Linked DNA regions of Homo sapiens. The protein of the gene in region 1 interacts with the protein of each later gene in a biochemical or structural test. Each region holds a gene or a part of one and is shown in the gene's direction. Other genes may lie near its edges.

The links. Proteins that work in one complex are often made in the same cells at the same time.
Region 2: the proteins of TRIM23 (region 1) and UBE2E1 form a complex in vitro, tested with the Homo sapiens proteins (4 studies listed by BioGRID, with this or other methods).
Region 3: the proteins of TRIM23 (region 1) and UBE2D3 form a complex in vitro, tested with the Homo sapiens proteins (4 studies listed by BioGRID).

Annotation. Positions count from the first base shown.
Region 1 is NC_000005.10:65,614,305-65,621,407, reverse strand, and holds part of TRIM23 (E3 ubiquitin-protein ligase TRIM23), read left to right. Parts: intron 1-3,152; coding exon 3,153-3,315; intron 3,316-7,103.
Region 2 is NC_000003.12:23,801,069-23,808,954, forward strand, and holds the start of UBE2E1 (ubiquitin-conjugating enzyme E2 E1), read left to right. Parts: upstream 1-4,886; 5' UTR 4,887-5,020; intron 5,021-5,750; exon of another isoform or gene 5,751-5,837; intron 5,838-6,168; 5' UTR 6,169-6,201; coding exon 6,202-6,353; intron 6,354-7,886. UniProt on the Homo sapiens protein: Accepts ubiquitin from the E1 complex and catalyzes its covalent attachment to other proteins. Catalyzes the covalent attachment of ISG15 to other proteins. Mediates the selective degradation of short-lived and abnormal proteins.
Region 3 is NC_000004.12:102,796,552-102,803,551, reverse strand, and holds part of UBE2D3 (ubiquitin-conjugating enzyme E2 D3), read left to right. Parts: intron 1-913; coding exon 914-991; intron 992-1,992; coding exon 1,993-2,098; intron 2,099-3,976; exon of another isoform or gene 3,977-4,051; coding exon 4,052-4,145; intron 4,146-4,574; coding exon of another isoform or gene 4,575-4,623; exon of another isoform or gene 4,624-4,624; intron 4,625-6,091; coding exon 6,092-6,137; 3' UTR 6,138-7,000. UniProt on the Homo sapiens protein: Accepts ubiquitin from the E1 complex and catalyzes its covalent attachment to other proteins. In vitro catalyzes 'Lys-11'-, as well as 'Lys-48'-linked polyubiquitination.

The DNA of each region.
Region 1 (7,103 bases):
TACAGCATTTATAAAATGTTGCATTTATTTTATATCAAATTCTATTGTGAATTTTTGAGACAGAGCCTCACTCTGTCGCCCAGGCTGGAGGGCAGTGGCACAATCTTGGCTCACTGCAAGCTCCGCCTCTTAGGTTCATACCATTCTCCTGCCTCAGCCTCCCGAGTAGCTGGGACTACAGGTGCCCGCCACCGCGCCTGGCTAATTTTTTGTATTTTTGGTAGAGATGGGATTTCACCACGTTAGCCAGGATGGTCTCAATCTCCTGACCTCGTGATCTGCCCGCCTTGGCCTCCCAAAGTGCTGAGATTACAGGCGTGAGCCACCGCACCCAGCCTATGAATATTTTTTCTATATTTAATTGAATTTTTTTTTTTTGAGGCAGGTTCTCACTCTGTCACCCAGGTGGGAGTGCAATGGCACGATCATGGCTCATAGCAACCTCGACCTCCTGGGCTCAAATGATCCTCCCACCTCAGTTTTTGATTTTTTTTTGTAGAGACAGGGTCTCGCTGTGTTGCCCAGGCTGGTCTTGAACTCCTGGCCTCAAGCAGTCCTCTTGCCTTGGTGTCCCAAAGTGCTGTGATTACAGGTGTGAGCCACAGTGCCTGGCCTAAAGAATTTGATAACGTGAAACTTTCCCCTTTTTAAAAAATGTAGGATAAATTGAAGTATGTGTATATATGAATAATAGACAGAATTATACGTGGATAGCTGTTCCCCAGTTGTTTGCCTTTTTCATGGGGAACCAGTGTTCCAATGTTACTGGTGTCCTATGTATCCTTCCAGGAAGACAATACGCTTATACAACAATACAAAAAAAATTTGCTCTTTCCCCACCTTTATGCAAAAATGAATATATTCTATTATTTTTCTTTTTGTTTTAATCATATGAAATCATTCTGTGTATATATGAAAAACTTCATCTTTCTCACTATCCTATATAGTTTTATAGTATTATGAATGTGCCACAATTTATTTTCCAAGCTGATATTGATGTATATTTACTTTCTTTCCAATTTTTTGCTAATGCAAATGATGCTTTAAGGAGTAACATACAGATTTTGTCACACGTGTCTAGTATGCTTGTAGGATAAATTCCTGCAACTAGAATTACTGAGTTATTTAAATTTGGTAAGTATTGTCAAGTTGCCCTCCATAGAAGCTGTATTGCTCAATAAACATTTCATAGCAATTAGTAATGTATGAGAGTGTCTGCTTTCCCACACCTTCACTAACAAAATGTTACCAACATTTTTGATCTAATCTGAAAAAAGTATTTTGATGTAGCTTTAATTTGCATTTTTCTTTCTTTATTTTTTTGAGACCGAGTGTCATTCTGTCACCTAGGCTGGAGTGCGGTGGCGTGATCTTGGCTCACTGCAACCTCCGCCTCCCAGGCTCAAGCAATTATCCTGCCTCAGCCTCCTGAGTAAACTGGGCTTACAGGCGCCCACCACTATGCCTGGCTAATTTTTTTGTATTTTTAGTAGAGATGGGATTTCACCATGTTGTCCAGGCTGGTCTCGAACTCCTGACCTCAGATGATCCACTCGCCTCGGCCTCCCAAAGTGTTGGGATTACAGGCATGAACCACCATGCCTAGCTTTAATTTGCATTTTTCTTATTATGAGTTAGATTGAACATCTTTTCACGTAAAGAATTTTCATCTTCTTTTCTCTGAACAATGTTATGTTTCTTATTTTTATTCATTTTTATCTTCCCAAACCCTTATTTACATTGAAGGACTAAATTTAAATTTCTTTTGAACCATGATAAGATGCAAAGCAATTATGAATTATCACTGTATGGTGAAAGATATTTGCATCTCAAGCACTAAGTCCAAGTTAATTGTAGAGTTAGGTTTAAAATCATAGTAGATTTAGTCTGATTTCTGCCTTGGGTTTTCTGTTTTTTACCTCGTGTTGTGTGTTTGATGATGGTGAGCTTAATTGTTTTTAAATTATTTTACTGGACTTTATGTAAGCAGTAGGTACTTGGTATTTAAAATACCCAGTTCCTGAGGGTTCTTTGGTCCAACAGGGAAAGACGGGCTAAAAGACCAAGGTATTAAAGTGTTTTGGGTGTTACGGTAGACGCTTATACAGAGTACATCGGGGCCCAAAGGACAAGTATAGTCCTTTCCTCAGTGTTAGCATGAAGAGACATGAAACAGTTTCTCATGTTCTGAGAACTATAAGCTGTTGGATATAGTTGGAGCATAGGGTCAGAAGAGTATGGCAGTGAAGCAATAGGACAGGGACCAGATTGTAGCAGGTCTTGAATGACAGGAGTTTGAGGTATGATTGAATAGTACAGTGTGGGTATTTTTAAAAAATTAATGCAAGGTATGAAACACTACAAATATACTTAGAAATAAGTGCTGAAAATGCTTTATTGCTATAAATACAATTTGTTGACTATTTGTAAAACATAAACTTATGGACTTGAGAATCAGAATATGCTGATAAATGGCCTTTCTTTTGACTGACTGTGTAGCCTTGTGCAAGTCATGTGTCTGTAACTAGAGCTAGAAAGACAAACTAGTTTCTAATTCAGAGCTATATTTATTGATAGAGAACAGGAATTGAAATTTAAGATGATTGCTTTTTTTGCCTTTGTATTATTTAATGTACATTAGATAGTAGAAGATACTTGAAAGTTACTTGCAGTCTTTTCTTAACAAGTTCTTTATCATTTGCAGGGGTAATTGTTATCTCAGTACATATTTTAGATTATTTTTGTTGAAATTAATGATAGTTTATTTGTGTTGAAATTAATGATGGGTTAGGTAGTTGCAGAGAAATTGCTTAAGAACCCACCTTCAGTAGAATTACATATTGTTTGTACAGATTCAGATGTAATGACTGAAATCATAATTTTCAAAAGATAACAAAGATGTTAATTTACAGCATCTTTGCCCCAACACTTAGTATTTCAAAGATATTTCATTATGATATAATTTTGACAGGGTCGGTCAAATGGAATGACTTAAAAGTGATTCAAGATTTTACAACCTACATAGTTTTTTTTTCATAGAGGAATAAAGTAACAATGTTGATTCAATATATTAGGTGAATTTTCTTATATACCTAAAATATGTATGCTTTTAAAATTGTTTAAAGAGCACATCCTTCCTTTTCAAATATTAGGTGCTAGAGTGTGGAGTTTGTGAAGATGTCTTTTCTTTGCAAGGAGACAAAGTTCCCCGTCTTTTGCTTTGTGGCCATACCGTCTGTCATGACTGTCTCACTCGCCTACCTCTTCATGGAAGAGCAATCCGTTGCCCATTTGATCGACAAGTAACAGACCTAGGTAGGAAAAGTATTTGTATGGATTTAAGATTGAAAATTGTTCATGTAATGCAAATGTCATAGGAAACAATGTCCTTCCACTTGATTTTTAGAATGATAAAATTCCCAGAAAGTTTCAGAAAGCCTAAGTTTCTATTAAGGTCAATAATCTTCAAGCTATAAACTATCTCACTCTTAGTTACTAATTTTATTTTATCTTCTGAGATGTTTATATTCAATACTTATCTGTAAAGAGCTTTAAGACACCTGAGAAAAACGTGCTACCCTGATTCAAATAAATAAGAATGTGTATCACAGAGTGAATCATTTGCCTGAAGCCATAAACCCAATAGAACAATGTTTTCTTTACAAATAAATAAGCCAATAATGAAAATACAGATAAGTCATTTGAGTCTCACCATGTTTTTATTTACTAATATCAAGGACAGAAGTGTTTGTAGCTTGTGATAATTACTCTTTATTTTCTGTTAAAATGAGTTTGAAGGGTTTGTGGCTTTTTTTTGCAGTTTTCTGTATACTTTTAAAACTTTTCTTTACGTATTTCAAACTAAGTTATTTTCAGATACCAGATTTGGAAATAATAGCATTTACTAACATTTGAACAGTTATTTTACAAACGTAAGTTCTGTAAGTTTACTCTTTTTGATAAGGGAGTTTTCTCCAAAAGAGTTTAAGGTTGCCATTTTTTTTCCAGGTCAGTTGCACTATCTAAGACAGTTTTAATATATTCATACTATTTTTCAAGTGGAACACATTCAAAATAATTTATCCACCAAAAAAGGAAGCAAGAGTACCTATAATTTTAGGCTGGAAGACTTTGAAATGCTAAGAAACATGGTTTTAAAATATTTTCTGGAGAAAGAAAAGGATTTTTAAGGTTTTGGTGATCTTTGATGTATATAAATAGTCTATTTGCCTGACAACTAATAGACAGTAATAACATTATAGATAGCATTAACTTACCAGTAGCCAAGAAATAATAGGGATTGGGAAAGTCTCTGTACTTTTATTTGGTCTTTTATTATGTGAAATATGCATATATCATACTATTTCTTTATATAAAACTATACTTAGGCCAGGTGAGGTGGCTCATACCTGTAATCCAGAACTTTGCAAGGCTAAGATGGGTGGATCACCTGAAGTCAGGAGTTCAAGGCCAGCCTGGCCAAAATGGTGAGACCCCTTTTCTTCTAAAAATGTAAAAATTAGCTAGGCATGGTGGTGGATGCCTGTAATCCCAGCTACTTGGGAGGCTGAGGCAGGAGAATCGCTTGAGCCTGGGAGATGGAGGTTGCAGTGAGCCTAGATCACGCCATTGCCCTCCAGCCTGGGCAACAAGAGCAAAACTTGGTCTCAGACAAACAAACAAAAAAACTATGCTTAAAGAAATAGTAATGTTTTTCAAATAGAGAATAGAACCTTTCTTCTACTTTTTTTTTTTTTTTTTTTTTTAAAGCAGAGTGTTACTCCGTCACCCAGGCTGGAGTGCTGTGGCGCGATCTCAGCTCACTGCAGCCTTCACCTCTGGGGTTCAAGCGATTCTCCTGCCTCAGCCTCCTGAGTAGCTGGGATTACAGGCACCTGCCACCACGCCTGACTAATTTGTGTATTTTTAGTAGAGATGGGGTTTCACCATGTTGGCCTGGCTGGTCTCGAACTCCTGACCTCAAGTGATCCACCTCAGCCTCCCAAAGTGCTGGGATTACAGGCATGAGCCACCACACCTGGCTCTTCTACCTTTTTGAAGAGCACTTTACCTTCTCTACATTAATACCACAATGTGAAGAGTTACTATCCTCAATGTTTAACAAAACTAGAAATTTATGACAGGGAACTAGACTGAATACATCCATCCTCCTCTCTGACTTCTCTGAATCCTGAATCAGAATTTCTCTCTAGTCCAAGAAGAATATGAGTAGTTATTAATACCATTCAGCAATATTCCTGATTTTCTTCTGCTCATATGGTGAAATTACACTTCCTTGCCCTCTTACGCATCACTGTGTGATGTTCATTGATCAGTGAAATGTAAGCAGAAGTGAAGTGTTAGCATCCAGGTAGAAGTTAATAAGAGAAGGTTTATGATTTTCAAAGTAAATTCTTCTCCTTGCTGCAGTGAGGTGGTCCAGATGGTTGGAGGCTCGGTAGGCTGTGTCCCTGTTTGTGGTCAGTGGGGAACAGAGTCTCTCTTGTCTTCCCTAATCCCTGAGATGTTGCATGATGCAAAAAATAAATCTTTGTTGTGTTAAGCCATTGAGATTATAGAGTTGTTTTGACACAGAATTAAGTGATATAAATATTAGGCACTACCTAGTAATAATGCTAGAGGTTTATTTGTATATATTCATTATATAGTGACTGGATATTTAGAAAATTGTCAAGACTATATTTTTAAATGATCACTTAGTGTACTTCTTAACCTTTATGTAAATAGATAGAACTCAGCTTGTTGTAGAATATGTGTTAAAAATTAAGGAGAAAGCCTTCTAGGGGCAAGGCTGAGGATAGATATGTTCAGTCCAGTTTTTTTGGGAGAACCACAACACAGAATGGCTTTTTTTTTTTTAAGAGCCAGGAGGAAGGGGGGCCCTGCAGGCAATGACTCCATCAACCTTTTATATATTTATTCATTTAATGAATATGTATTAGGTGGCAGCTATATCAGATGTTATTTGTTGCATAGGAGTTTACCATAACAAATATTCCTTCTGCTAAAGGATCTGACTTTTATTCATAGGTTCAGGAAGAGTGTGTATGTTGTCCTGGGTTACAATGTTATATGTATTTCTTAAGGTAGGTTGCTGCAAAAAGTATTTGAAAATGCTTGTTTTAGCATGTATAGTAAAAGTCAATGACAAAATAGGACTTGTAAAATTAAATGATAGAGAAATAGGCTGGGCACGGTGGCTCACACCTGTAATCCCAGCACTTTGGGAGGCTGAGGCAGTCAGATCACTTTAGGCCAGGAGTTTTGAGACCGGCCTGACCAGCATGGCGAAACCCCATCTCTACCAAAATATACAAAAAAATCAGCTGGGCATAGTGGCACACACCTGTAGTCCCAGCCACTTGGGAGGCTGGGGCACGAGGATCACTTGAACCCGGAAGGTGGAGATTGCAATGAGCAGAGATCACGCTACTGCACACCAGCCTGGGCAACATAGCAAGACTCTGTCTCAAAAAAAAAGTAAAAGAGATTTAAATAATTTTTTTAAACTGTGGCAAAATATATGTATAACATAAAATTTGCCGTTTTAACCATTTCTAAGTTTAGGGACATTAAGTACATTCATATTGTTGTGCAGCCTTTACCACCATAATTTTTTTTATGTGTATTTAGATTTTTTTTTTTTTTTTTTGAGATAGAGTCTTGCTCTGTCATCCAGATTGGAGTGCAGTGGTGTGATCTTGGCTCACTGCAACCTCCACCTCCCGGGTTCAAGCAATTCTCGTCCCTCAGCCTCCTGAGTGGCTGGGATTATGGGCGCCTGACGCCACACCTGGCTAATTTTTGTATTTTTAGTAGAGACGGGATTTCACCATGTTGACTGGGCTGGTCTTGAACTCCTGGCCTTAAGTGATCTGTCCGCCTCAGCCTCCCAAACTGCTGGGATTACAGGCGTGGGCCAAAGCACCTGGCCAAAAAATAATAAATTTTAAAGTGTGTTTCTACTTGGAAGGCTGAAGGATTCTTCTGTTTTTTAAGAGAGCATTAACAAAGCAATTATTTTGGTATTAAAAATGGGGAAAATTTGAATTTTAAAAATTTAGACATTAACTACTGAACTA
Region 2 (7,886 bases), on another chromosome or scaffold:
TGAAGGTAAATGCCCCAGATCACATTCGTCTTTATGGAATCGACCCTTGTTTTTGAACTTTCCTTATCTTTCTTACAAGGAATGGATTTTTCAGCCAAAGGAGAATTATAAAATGAAACAAGTCGATTGAAATCCAGTGAGTCCATTTTTCCCAGAAAGGCTTTATATAAATTCTTTATAAGTTGCAAACACAAGATTTTTTTTTCTTTGGATGGAAAAAGGAAATCTTTTCTTTTTCTTTTTTTTTTTTATGGAGTCTCACTCTGTCACCAAGGCTGGAGTGCAATGGCATGATCTCGGCTCACTGCAACCTCTGTCTCCTGGGTTCAAGAGATTCTCCTGCCTCAGCCTCCCGAGTAGCTGGGATTACAGGCACTCATCACCACACCCAGCTAATTTTTGTATTTTTAGTAGAGACGGGGTTTCACCATGTTGGCCAGGGTGGTCTCAAACTCCTGACCTCAGGTGATCCGCCCACCTCAGCCTCCCAAAGTGCTGGGATTACCAGTGTGAGCCACCACGCCCAGCAAAGGAAATCCTTTCTATTCAGCAATAAGGTAAGTTAAAAAACTATATTAACCAACGTTAACTTGCTTGACAATTCTTTGGACATGAAATTGGCCAAAGAGAATCTTTATGAAATACTTGAATTTCAGTGTAAGCAACAAGTCAAAAAGTTAAACCAAGTCTCCCTCTTTCAACTGTATTATTTCACCTCCTAGGGATCAACTAGCACCTTGATCTTCAAGTGTTTCTACTTAAATGTACTTGATACACTAAAGATGACTTGAAGGAGAGTTGGGTCATTCTGAAAACCAGGAATAGGTATTAATAAAAACTGGAGCCCACTTTCTCAAAGTCCACAGGATGTCACAGTGTAATACTACTTGGGCTTCTGTGACTGGCTGGTTTTCTAAAATGTAAATTGAGCATTACTATCAAAGCATTCAGTGCATATGTATGCATTTGCTTTACACATGCATAGACTACAACCGAAAACTGCTTTCTCCAAAGGAAATTAGGGGTGGGGGAAGGGGCAGAAAGATATTTTCGTGGCATACTCTCTGGTTTCTTTAGAATAATATAGCATGAAAATGTATTATCTATTTAAAATATATCCATATAGGCAAAATAAATAAATAATGAGGACTATTCTCAGGATGAGGGTGGGGTTGGGGAACTTCAATAGCAGTCATTAGTTCAAGCAACCATGTTACAAATTCAGTGATTCCCTTAGCTTGCTTCCATGTTCCCACTTTCCCAGCTGTCTTGATTGTTAATATATTCTCGAAAATATTATCAGAGACTACTATATTTATTTTATTTATTTACTTATTTTGAGACAGGGTCTCACTCCCACCACCCAGGTTGGAGTACAGTGGCACAATCACAGCTCACTGCAGCCTCAACCTCTGGGGCTCAGGTGATTCTCCCACCTCAACCTCCCAAGTATCTGGGACCACAGGCATGTGCCACCAGGCCTGGCTAATTTTTGCATTTTTTGTAGAGACAGTCTTGCCATGTTGCCCAGGCTGGTCTTGAACTCCTGGGCTCAAGGAGTCTGCCTGCCTTGGCCTCCCAAAGTGCTGGAATTACAGGCGTGAGCCACTGCACCCGGCCCTTTTATATTTAATACATTTTTCTGCAATGTAATTGAGGCTCTTCTCCCACTCCAATATTGCCAGAACTGACAAGATCATCTGTGGATAGCATGGGTCATAACAACAATTTTGCCACCAACTTACTGCATGACCTTGGATAAGACATACTGGCTTTTTTTTTTTTTTTTTTTTTTTTTTTTTTGAGACAGAGTCTTGCTCTGTCCCCAGGCTGAAGTGCAGTGGCGCGATCTCGGCTCACTGCAACCTCCAATCAAGACTCGCTGGTTCAAGAGATTCTCTTGCCTCAGCCTCCCGAGTAGCTGGGATTCCAGGCACATGTCACCAAGCCTAGATAATTTTTGTATTTTTAGTAGAGACGGGGTTTCACCATCTTGGCCAGGATGGTCTCAATCTCCTGACCTCGTGTTCCACCTGCTTTGGCCTCTCAAAGTGCTGGGATTACAGGCATGAGCCACCACGCCCGGCCAACATACCGGCCAACATAACTTTCTTTGCTTTGATTTCTTTATCTGTAACATGAAGAGTGTGAACTAGAAGATATCTTAGGCCCCTTCTAGGCATAAAATACTATGATTCCTTGAGTATATGTTTCTCCTGGAAGGTTTCTTATATTTTCATCAATTCTAAGTTATAAAAACCCCATGTCCTCTTTTCTGCCCTGGTGACGAAAAACAAAAACATAAAAGCAACAAATAACCCCAAACCCATGAACTAAGAAAATTCCACTAGAGTGGAATTATTAATAATTTACTTTGCGTAACAGCTAATAAATCACCTTACTTACAGATACATATTTGACCTTGCCAGTCAGTAGAGCACAGGTATTTCTGCCCTTTATGGATGAGGGAACTGAGGCTCAGGGAGGTCAATTTAGCTTTTTAGGCCTTGTAGTTAATAAGAAGGAGAGATAGAAAGTTGTGTATGAATTTTTTTTCCCCTAAGACAGCTGCATACAGGTCTTAAAAATAATTCGACATAAAGATTAGTCTTTTGAGAGGACTGGATTCTTTTCTAAACATTTTGAAGTTTTTATTCCCTGTCATCAGGTCATTCCAAAACGATAAAGCACTAACTTAAGCTAGCTGGAATTAGAGATTAGGGGGAACAGTACACAAAAGAGGGCAAGAAACCTTCCAGACAGGTGGTTGGGAAATCACTTTTCCTTATAGGAGGAGCTGTTAGATTTCATGATTTCTTTCACAAGGAATCAGTCCAACCCAAGCATCAGTAACACAACACAAAATATCATGTTCTGTTACAAAAGAATTCTTATTATAGCTGGTAGGCAATTTATGCAAACCAATATTAAAGAAAAAATTCACCTACTGTCCTGATCACTTCAGCAAATCAAACCTTTTATTTTCCTGTGATCTCTGCTAGTTCTTGTCTTTATAACACATGATTTTTTTACTGGTTGTATTCATAATGTAGACATATATTTTTAAGTATCAGAAATCCAAATTTTCATAGGAGGAAATTTCAATTTTAATAACTATTTTTAGATTATTTTCCTCATCCTGAGTTTATTTCATCTTCTTATTGTTTTCTTCTGAATTTACATCTTTTCATCAGAACAAAAAGAATACAATCAGTTTTTCAGAAGTTTAAAAAATTTTTTCAAATATATAGCAAAGAATGTCATCATTTTTATATACTCTACCAGGACTCCTGAAACCAAACACTTAAGAAAGGTTATGTCTGGAAATTTTTTCAAAATCTATATGCATTTCAGTGGTGGAGAAATAGTTCTGTCTGGAAGCAGGAGGCTGAAATTATGACCCTGAAGATTTCTTCCAGCTTTTGAACTTCTTATTCTATGACAACTCCTGGTAGATACAGGTTTCCTGGTAGGGATTGAGCAAGAAGCATGCACAATTACTTTATGAGTCTTGATAAAGCTGGAATTTCAGGTTGATGGTTAGAAGGAGTTCGGCTGGGTCGTGAGAATGCTTGTTTTCCTGGTTACTGGATATGCCATGGGCTGTATATCTTGTGTTGTCCTGTGGTAACTGAAGCCACTGTTGCTGTGGAAAATGATGGCAGTTTGAATGAGATAATTTAGAGTGACCTATGGAAATCTGAGGCTGTCTCCTTAATGTACAAGACCTTGTATGTGTGGCACTGTTGTATTTGAATGGCACACATCTCTTTAGTTCCCTTCAACTGAAATGACAAAAGGTGAGAAACTGAATCGTAATTTGATGGCTTAATATTAAAAAAAAATTGGCAAAAATGCTAAATAAGGAACAATTCAGAAGAATTGCTGATCATTTCAAAAATATTATTTGCATAGCATTTATAGGTAGCTAAAGAAAGAGAAAAATGGCTTAATATTTTAAAAATAATTTGGTCAATTTAGCGATCTGGGGATTCTGCGATCCCCAGAACTTTGCATCCAATTTCCAAAAACCAAACCTTACATCTAATGTAAAATGACACAAAAAATTCTAAATCCAGTCTAATTCAGTAGTATATAGCTTATTCCCAGTGATGTCTCACATTCGCAAGCCCGTTACACGTTGGTTTTACCTGTCACCAAAACCTTTGTATCACTCTTATAAAAAACCACATCACTTTCTATAAAAAGTGAGTGGAAGAATCTAATATTGTAAAACTGCACGTGCCTCGCGTGACCTGAGCAGAAAATTCCTAGTTTGGGATTTTCTCACAGGCATACCTAAACTGACCTCTGCTCCTAGCAGGTAAATTGCTAGAAGGAGAAGCAAGTGTCAGTCCAAAGAAAACCCTTGTTGTGTGATTTTTTTTTTCTCTTTAATCGCTTTTTAGGTGGAGTACCCGCTGCATTCTCTAAAGTCTTTGCCACCACCAGATTACCAACGTTTTCACCAATTTGCCACCTCCCTACTCCTCTCCTTTCCAAAAGCCCTCATTGGAAAGAACTTTCTCTCGTGACCCCCCTATTCCATCTAGTTCCAATCACTCCCAGCGCCCCCCATCTCCATCGGCTTCCCCTCTCCCGCCCAGAATCCAGGTTCCCAAACCACTTAAGAGAAAATTCACAACCCTCGCCCCCTTCCCGGGCGTCCGGAGGAGGCGCTGGGGTGGGGGTGTCTGTGGGGGACAGGGTTTCCTGGGGTCTCCTGGGTCTTCCTCGCGCACCCCCAGGAGGTGTTGCAGGGGGAGGGGAGCGCGGGTGGGTGGGACCGGGCCGGGTGGGGGAGGGGTGAGGGCGAGGAGGAGGAGGAGGAGGAGGCGGCGGCGGAGGAGTGGTGTGTGTGCGAGCGTGTGTGGCTGGGGGAAGCCATTGCCTGTTTAATAGTTGCTGTTGCTGCACTTCCGCTTCTCTCCCAGCGAGAGAGAGACACGAGTGGCCAGGCCCAGCCGCAGCCGCAGCAGCAGCCGCCGCGGCGGCACGGAGGAGCCAGACACAAAGAGAGGTACGGGGATCCCCCCAGCGGCCCGCCGCCCCCCGGCCGCGCCGCCGGGCCTCGGGGACACCCCTCGCCGCCTCCCCCGACTCGCGCCGCCGGGGCCGCCGGGCCGCAGGGCACGGGGCCGGCGCGGGGGGGGAGCGGAGAGGGGCTGGGGAGCCCCAGGGGTCCGGGGCCCGCCCGCGGGGGATGGGCAGGGACCCCGGGCCGCGTGGGGTGCGGGGGCCGCCCGCATTGAGGACGGGGGTCATTGTGGCTCGAACTGTCAGCGCTGCCCCAAGAGCCCCCCACTGGCCACCGAGGGGCCCGGGAGCGGGGGTGGGAGGGAGTTGGGGGAGCCCCGTTTTCCCCAGGGGCGGGGGTTCGCGGGGATTAACCCCTCCGGGGCGGAAGGGCTCATTGTTATGTCTTCGCTGCGGAGGCCGACCCCCCCATTCCCCGCCGCAGCCCCTATCCCCCTACAGGAGTGGCGATCGGGCGTGTGCTCCGGACCCCCGCCCGGCCGCATAGCTGTGAGCAGGGCGGCCAGAGGCAGGCAGGCCGGGAGGGGCGTCGGGGCGCGGCGCGGGGGGGCCTCGGGCCTCGTCGCCCCTGCCCCCCGCCGGCCTCTCCCTTCCCCCACCCGGGCACCCGCTCCCCGCCTCCGTCCCCCTGTTTCGGCTTCCTCTCTTACTCCTTCCCGCCCCTCCTCTCTTCCCGACCTCGCCAAACTCCGCTCGTGGCCCCACAGTCTCACCCGGGCCACCGGCCCCTCACGACCCCCGGAAAGCGGACAAAAACAGCCCCGAGGCCGGCCGGCCGCCGGGACCTTCCCTCCCTGCCCCGCCGTGGCGCCCCGCGCCCCCCGCCCTGCCCTCCTTCGCCTCCCGGGCTACTCCCTCCCTGCCCAGCGGAGAGCCCCGGGGGGCGAGGGAGGGGCCTCTCTCCTAGCTCCAGACCGTTTTCCCACAGCGTTCCCCACTTGGGGCCAAAAATAAACAAGCCGCGTCCGATTTGCAAAAGCCTTAATGGGCCTGCAGACTTTGAAAAGCGAGTGGAGGGCGGTGGGCGGCCGCGTGCGCCCCTGGTCAATGCCCTCCTGACAGCACCCGAGTTCCTTATTTACACTGGCTGCATGGTTTGTGTGTTTCTGTTTTGTTTCTCTCCCCCTGCAGGGGCTGTTTGCGGGGTGGGGTGGGGGGTTCGCTATGTCGGATGACGATTCGAGGGCCAGCACCAGCTCCTCCTCATCTTCGTCTTCCAACCAGCAAACCGAGAAAGAAACAAACACCCCCAAGAAGAAGGAGAGTAAAGTCAGCATGAGCAAAAACTCCAAACTCCTCTCCACCAGCGCCAAGAGGTACTGTGCTCTTTTTTTTTTCCACAGGCTTCCTATTTCCGAACTGCCTCTTGCTGCATTTGGTCTGCCTCCCAATGAGGATAGCTTAAACGCTCCTCATGGTTTATGTGTTCTTAAAAATGAAAGAAGGGCCTTGGAAGCCCTAATTATTTTCTCTATTGCTGCTTCTGTTTTTAAATCATTGCTCACATGCAGCTGTTGCGGCTTGCCTCTCGCATTTCTTGCTGAAGTTTGTAAGATTCCTCGTTACTTTTATTAGTGACCCCCAAATCTGATTTCAGATTTCTTGTCCTACTAATGGTTAATCTGTGACCTTCCCCAAGGCCATGATCCCATTTCTTAATTACTAATACCAGCCCAGAGAACTGCATCAAAATGAATTCTGTGACCATTTTACCTTCTCCTCACCTGTTGCATGGATGATCTTTTCTAAATAGAGCTTTCTTCACAAATTGCATAAGGAATAAGAAACTCATATTAGCAGGTACAAAATTTAGTAGGTGAAGACAGATGTTTTCTGGTGGAATTTAAAGAGATTTTTCTGAGAGTTGAGGCAAATGAATGAATCAGTAAGTGACTATAAAATGGTTATTCTAGGTTATTTTTGTGGTTCTCTTTAAAAACTTCAGTTTACCAATTTCAGGGAGACTTGTCTTTTTTTCATGCTATTTGCTGTCCTCATGCTGTGAAAATGTTACTTTGCCTTATTTTTTCAATTTAAGTGGTCTCCCTTTTACTTTATTCTTTTCCTCTTAAGGCCCTGAAGGTAGCTACTTTTTATCCCTGCCATCCTAAGCGGTCACCCTTTTTCTTTATTCTTTTCCTCTTAAGCCTCTGGAGGTAGCTACTTTTTACCCCTGCCATCCTTCAGTAATATCCTCTGATCGCCATGACCCTCAAAATCATCTTTAGTGGATTCCTAGGAGCTCTGAGACACCCTTTCATAAATCCTTCTGCTCTCAGAGTTAGGCAGTTGTTAAAAAGGTGGCAAACCAGGAAGATAGTAAGAACTCCAAATGATGGGATAGGGATACCCTTCTTAAAAATTTTTAAAATAAAGTAGAACATGAGACTTTAGATCTCTCCACTGAGTAGTGAGCCTGGAAGTCAGGGTTTGAGAGTTTGTTCTGTCATTCTCCCTGACTTGTAATTTGAAAACTTGGCAGTGTTTTGGTGACCTAACCATGGGCTGATGAAGGAGTGACTTTTAAAAAATAGTGTGGAGGTCTTAAGTGGCAAGGTGCCTCTGCAAGATTGTTCTCATTTTTATAGGTTTGGTTTGATTGTACAGCTTCTCAGGAGGCCTGACTGACCCTCACTGATTAGCCCTGTGCGGTTTTCCTGGAACCTGACATCTACTCTGCCCACTTGGGACGGGCCCTTCCTTAATACTGCGCCCCACCTCAATCCTCTAGGCTCTCTGATCCTCATTCACGTTTTGGCCTCACGTGCTCAAGCCAGGATACTTGCTTTTGGTAATTTGCATTTTTATATTTTGCTAGATATCCCTGGTGTACATGAATATATTTGGGG
Region 3 (7,000 bases), on another chromosome or scaffold:
GAATTAATGTTTATTTATTTTACAGAAGGGTAGGAATTAGATGAGCTGTGTTAGTGTCAGGCCTGTTTTTTATGTGCCTGACATCCAGAATGGGCATAGTGAAAGGCTCATATATAGCTGTATATACAAAGCCTTTCTAATAGAGGGGAGTCAGTGTTGGTAAAAACCCAGTTCATGTAAGTTGTAAAACATGTCTTCGGATTGGTTCTTTGCATACCCAGAAGCAGTTAGGCATTCCACATTTTAACTTTAAATTCCTGAGTAGGTCAGTATCTTTGATCATTAAGTGGTCTTCAAAAGACTTGTGTTTGAATCTTGGTTCTATCATTTACCATTTGTACACTAGACTAAGTTCTTTAAGCCTCATTTTTCTCATGCATAAAATAGGGGCAATGCATGTATTTTCTGGTATTGATTAAAATGAGAAGCTTAGGCTTTTCTCTGTTCTCCTCTTGAAGGTGGTGTGTGTGTGTTACCTGGAATAGCTAACATTTGGTTTGCCAGTGGGCAGAATGGACTGTTGTGAAGCCATTTGTACACATCTGGCTATTGGAAGAAATAATCTACATGTGTAAAATTTTGTTTACAGATTATTCTGAAACATGATTATGTAGGCTTTATTGCTGTGTTGTACTTTTGAGAATTGAGATCTAGAATACTTGCGTTTCTGGATAACTTTTTAAAAAAACATTTTGGTGACGTGTAAAATGACTAGATAAATTAGGGTTTATTACTGTATAAGTTTTAAGTTTTTTTCTATTACTATAGACTGAATTTTCATGGAATAGATTATTTATTGCAGTGTAAATAGGTGATTTGGGTTCATTATTAGAGAAATGCTTGGAAACAAATGTTACGGAATATTTAGCAATAATATTTTAAATTTGAGTTAAGCATACTTTTCTTTTTACAGAATGACAGCCCATATCAAGGCGGTGTATTCTTTTTGACAATTCATTTTCCTACAGACTACCCCTTCAAACCACCTAAGGCAAGTATTTTCCCTCAAAATCTGTTAGTATAGATTTATGCTTTATTTCAAAGGAATAGAGCATTCTTGGAAGATAGGGTTCTGTGTAGGCTGTATATATATGTTGAATTGCACTCATGTATAGATGCTGACTCTTAACCTTTGGTTTAAAGAGCTAGACCTCAGTTTGAGCTTTGTAAATAGGAATAAGGTTTGCCTTTTCTTTAATGTTGCAAGATTCAGACCATGTGGAAGCTTCCGCCCTCATCTGTATTATTGTTACACAGATTCTGATTTTTGGGCTTTTGTTGTCTTGTAAGCATCAAATGTCCAACTTCAATTTATATTTGCACGTATTGTTACAGCATATGCTTATTATGCTTATAGTTTTGTATACGTAAGTGTAAATTTGTGAAAACTTAGAGTTGCTTAGTGCACTGGTTTATAGGTATTAAAAGCATATTATCCTTCACTTTTCAGTCATTAACATAAATTCAACCTGTATGAATAACTAGAAAAGGTAATATACAAAGGTCATAAACATGTCACTATAACAATCTCTAGTAATGTTATAGGTGCAATGTGATGGTTTCCATTTTTGTGATTCAAGTTTATGTTTTATGTACGGTGGAAATGCAGACTCAGGTGTACCTGTGTAACTTAATGAAACTTTAAATGAGATGGTCTACAAATTTTGGTTACATCCAAAAGTTAGGGCTTTTATAAATGAATGTGTTAAATACCTTTAAATTGCCCTTTGATTCATGATATGGTAGGGCCACAGTAACCTTTAGAACTTTACATCATATGAGTAATGAAATTTTTATCCAAAAGTTTAGGTTTCTGTTGTAAAAAGAGGAGGCAGGGGGTTGTGGTCAGATTGTAAAAATCAGTTTCTATAATATTTAGAACTTCTATGCTAATAGATGACATTTTTAACATTGTGGCTTGATTATTTTAAGTTTTGCTTTAAAAGATGTTTGTTTTTATTTGAATAAAATACTTAAAAGTTTTTGTTTTAGGTTGCATTTACAACAAGAATTTATCATCCAAATATTAACAGTAATGGCAGCATTTGTCTCGATATTCTAAGATCACAGTGGTCGCCTGCTTTAACAATTTCTAAAGGTAAATATTTCTAGTGAAATAAGCTGTTCTCATTGTCTAATAAAGCTTCATTCTTAGATCTACTTATCTGAGTATTTTTATTATGGCAGCTTTTTGGTAAGAGATGGGGAAGCAATAAAGTTACTTTTATAATTTTTGTTCTTTTAGTGGTGTTGATTAAAGATACTTTGTGAGAAGTTGTTAAAATTCAAATTGTGGTGAGTAGGCATTATTTGCCTAATGAGTTACCTTCATCTCATCTTATAATAGCAAAATTTATTTTAATAGACTTCTGTATTTTTCAATCCCAAACCACTTGGACATCTCACACTAACTTGCGGCCTTTTTACCAAGAATGGTATGATATACCTAAACTTAATAGAGCTTTTGAATCCTGAGGTTTCCACTCTAGGAAAATTCTGATTTTGCTTTCCTGGGTTAATTTTTAGACAAATCTTCAGTCATGTTTTATGTAACCATGATAGGTTGTTTCTACCTAATGACAGTCTAAAATTATATAATCTTCGAAAGATCTGTAGATCAATTCTGGTCTCTTAATAGGTATCTGTTACGTTATATGTAACAAGTTTTCCGGTCTCCGCATGAATATCCCAGGTGAAGTTGTAATAATTAACACTATTTCACCATTAATTGTTTTTTGATTTTATGAGTTCAGTAAGTACAAAAAAGCTTTTTCAAAAGGCAAGGCATTGTATAAAAGTTTCATATGTGTATATACTGCACTTGAATCTCATGGAGAGAGACTGTAGCAGTAGCATTTCCCAAACTTTATTGAGTAGAATCACTTAAGGGAGAAAAAGAAACAACTTAGGCAGATGCTGCCATAATTCGAGTGTTTTTAAAATTTTACACCTGTTTTTCACCTTCTTGGATGCTTTCTAATTTCTTTTCAAATCATGCTACATACCTAAATATCAGTTTCCAAGTTTTTCTACTACTGCTGGGAGTGTACAGTAACACTGAAAACTGTTTTTGTAAGGGCAGATTGAATTGGTATTGTTTTGTCGTTAAAGCAACTTACTTTTTTGGCAGCCATACTTTGCTAACTTATTAAACTAGCAGTCACAACTGAAGCTACCTTTTTTCTGTGAGTTATTGTATAGCCAAGTCTCCTATATTAGGTAATTTTATATTCTGCTGTATTTGGGGTTTGAAATTAAATTTGCTGTAGTCAATAAATATGTGACAGTGTTGTCTTTTTTATACTATTGCTTTTTTTAAAAAAAAATCGGTCAGAACCATTTCAAGCATTTATATCTTAACATTTTATAACAGCACCACCATATATGGTGACTGGCACATAGCAGGCACTCAAAGTGAATGCGATCTATGTTCCTTAATGCTTGACATCTTATACATCAGTATGTTGAACTGGTTAAGGTAAAAACTAGAGCTGATGACTCACTTAGTACTAAAGAGATTTTGGCATTGTATTTAACTAGTACTCTTGGGAATATGGTTTCTTGCTTACAAGTTCAAGGAGACATTTAGTGGAGCACTTGAGGGTTTTTCTCAGAAATTGCCAAGACAACGGCTAAGAATGGATTTTTCATCATGCCTAATGGCTATGAATATGGCATGAGTGTTACCTGCATATTCTTGCTAAAGTCCCCCCCCCCCCAGCCACTGAGTACCAAGAAACTCAAGTTCTAATATCATTTATGCCTATTTAAAATATATATATTAATATGGCATCAGTTGCCTATCTTAGAAACTATTTTTATGGCTAGTCTGCAGTGAATTTCATGCCACAAAACCCTGTTTTTAGCACTTCTTACTTACCAGGAGCTTGTCTTCTGTGAAACAAAATCTCTGTAAAACTGTGTCTCATTGAGATAAAGATACAAACTAATAAAAGTCTTTTGAGGATTGAGTTTTGTAATACACGGTTTAGAAAAATTTATTTATCCAAACTCCTGAAACTGGGTAACAGATGTTTTTGTTTTCTTGCAGTTCTTTTATCCATTTGTTCACTGCTATGTGATCCAAACCCAGATGACCCCCTAGTGCCAGAGATTGCACGGATCTATAAAACAGACAGAGATAAGTAAGTATGTTAAAAAGTTATTATAAAAGTGGTTTTACTTAATGAGTTAGGCTTATACTTTGCTTGTGACAGTGCCAAGAAGACTTGATATTTAGTAAGATAATAGTTAAAATATGGAGAAAGCTATTGAAATGTGGTTATTTAAAAAAACTTAACTAGGCTTTAGCTTATGTGACAGTGAATGCTCCCCTCTAAAATGTTTTATTGTTGTTTTTTTTTTCCTAGCGTGTTAAACAGTATCACTTTATTCTCAACTTTTGGGGAAGAAAGCAAATTTTTCTTTACCCCAAGCATGTTTTTCCAAAAATGTTAGTACTATTGTAAAAATTTGGTCTAAATTTCTCAAATATTTGAATTATATTTATGTTCAACTTAACCATTATAACTTTCATATGTTATAATTAATGCTAAGTGTACTTGTTCAATTAGGTACAATAGGTTAGCAAGAGAGTGGACAGAGAAATACGCTATGTTGTAGGGTAAGAGGATCTGCACTCTATGGTGCGCTTATTATGGTACTGCCAGCACTTGAGTGCTGCATGCGTTAAGGCACTGTATTAACTAACAAAAGGTAACAAATATGGCAGTCTTCTGAAAACTGTACATTTAACTGCTTGGTCTCTGTTTAACGTGAAAGTAAATATCTGGTAGCCGTTATTGCTTGAAAGTACTGCATGGCAAAGCAGTTACAATAGCACTAGTAAGAAATGGGAATTTATGTAGTATCTTTTTTTTTTTTCAAACTATCATGGTGTTTAAATTTTAGCTTGAGACTTTGTACCAATCCTATACAGAATGTGGTGGTTTAGTTCAAATTTTGCCGGGAGATAGTAATGTAAGGGAAAAACACTTTTAAGCCTAAGCATCTAAACTAAATGTTCATTACTGACAAGCATGCATTAGCGTCAGCTGTACTTTGTGGCTCCCTGTATGCTAAATAAAGCCTTTGTTTTAAAGTGCTGGCTTTTTGAGAGAGTATCCTTAGGAGATGACAATGAATTGGTAGAAAGAACTTTTTAAAAAGTTTAGGAAAGTTGTTGGACCATATTTGGTTCTTGGTTTGAAATAAAGCTAGTTAATATTTAAACAATATAAAAATTCTCCTGTGCATATATATATATATATATTCATTTCTTAAGGTTATCACTGTTTTTTGTTGTTGTAAGTAGTCTATGGCATGAGTATAATCCAGGGGGAAGCTGATAGTATTTATCAATGTTAGTAGTCTTCCTGAGTAATAACCTTGCTTGTGTGTGAATTACCTGTTGATCTTTTTAAACGAAGATGCCCTTGTTGTACTCAACAGGTCTCAGTGGTGCTTATTAGCCTCAGTTACCACACTTATTAAAAGTAACACGTGATTCTGATGAACACAACCACTCACACACACACCCCTTTTGAAAATTACTGCCCTTTGTCATTCTGCCCAGTGTCATCTTCCCCTTCTGCCTCTACCTAAGTCCCAAAGCCATTTTTTCTTGTAATATCCAGGACCAAGTAATTTCCCAAACTCTAGGATTCAGATAAAATTGTTCTAGTAAAAGCCTAGTTCTGGCCTTGGTGGAAATTTCTGTGGATAGATAGAATGTGTATACTATTTTAACATTTGTCCATAATGAACTGTAAAAATTTCTTCACGTTAAAATTAGAGCATGAGCTCGGTGGTAGAGAAAGAAAGGGTCTTTTGATTTTTGTTAGCCTCCCAATTTTCAGTGCTGCTTTCTTAGTTGTTTTTAAAATACTACTTTCAGAGCATCAGGCTCTCATTTCCCACATTGCTTTGAGTACCAGTGCTATTTCTCCCTTGTTGGCTTTTATTCTAATCATAGTCATTAGAGATGACTTCATGATGAGTCTGGAGATGATAAAATGGAAATCTTTCCCTTCCATTTAAAGTATTAGGAATTCTTTATTTTAACTTTTAAAAATAACATCTTTATTTACAGGTACAACAGAATATCTCGGGAATGGACTCAGAAGTATGCCATGTGATGCTACCTTAAAGTCAGAATAACCTGCATTATAGCTGGAATAAACTTTAAATTACTGTTCCTTTTTTGATTTTCTTATCCGGCTGCTCCCCTATCAGACCTCATCTTTTTTAATTTTATTTTTTGTTTACCTCCCTCCATTCATTCACATGCTCATCTGAGAAGACTTAAGTTCTTCCAGCTTTGGACAATAACTGCTTTTAGAAACTGTAAAGTAGTTACAAGAGAACAGTTGCCCAAGACTCAGAATTTTTAAAAAAAAAAATGGAGCATGTGTATTATGTGGCCAATGTCTTCACTCTAACTTGGTTATGAGACTAAAACCATTCCTCACTGCTCTAACATGCTGAAGAAATCATCTGAGGGGGAGGGAGATGGATGCTCAGTTGTCACATCAAAGGATACAGCATTATTCTAGCAGCATCCATTCTTGTTTAAGCCTTCCACTGTTAGAGATTTGAGGTTACATGATATGCTTTATGCTCATAACTGATGTGGCTGGAGAATTGGTATTGAATTTATAGCATCAGCAGAACAGAAAATGTGATGTATTTTATGCATGTCAATAAAGGAATGACCTGTTCTTGTTCTACAGAGAATGGAAATTGGAAGTCAAACACCCTTTGTATTCCAAAATAGGGTCTCAAACATTTTGTAATTTTCATTTAAATTGTTAGGAGGCTTGGAGCTATTAGTTAATCTATCTTCCAATACACTGTTTAATATAGCACTGAATAAATGATGCAAGTTGTCAATGGATGAGTGATCAACTAATAGCTCTGCTAGTAATTGATTTATTTTTCTTCAATAAAGTTGCATAAACCAATGAGTTAGCTGCCTGGATTAATCAGTATGGGAAACAAT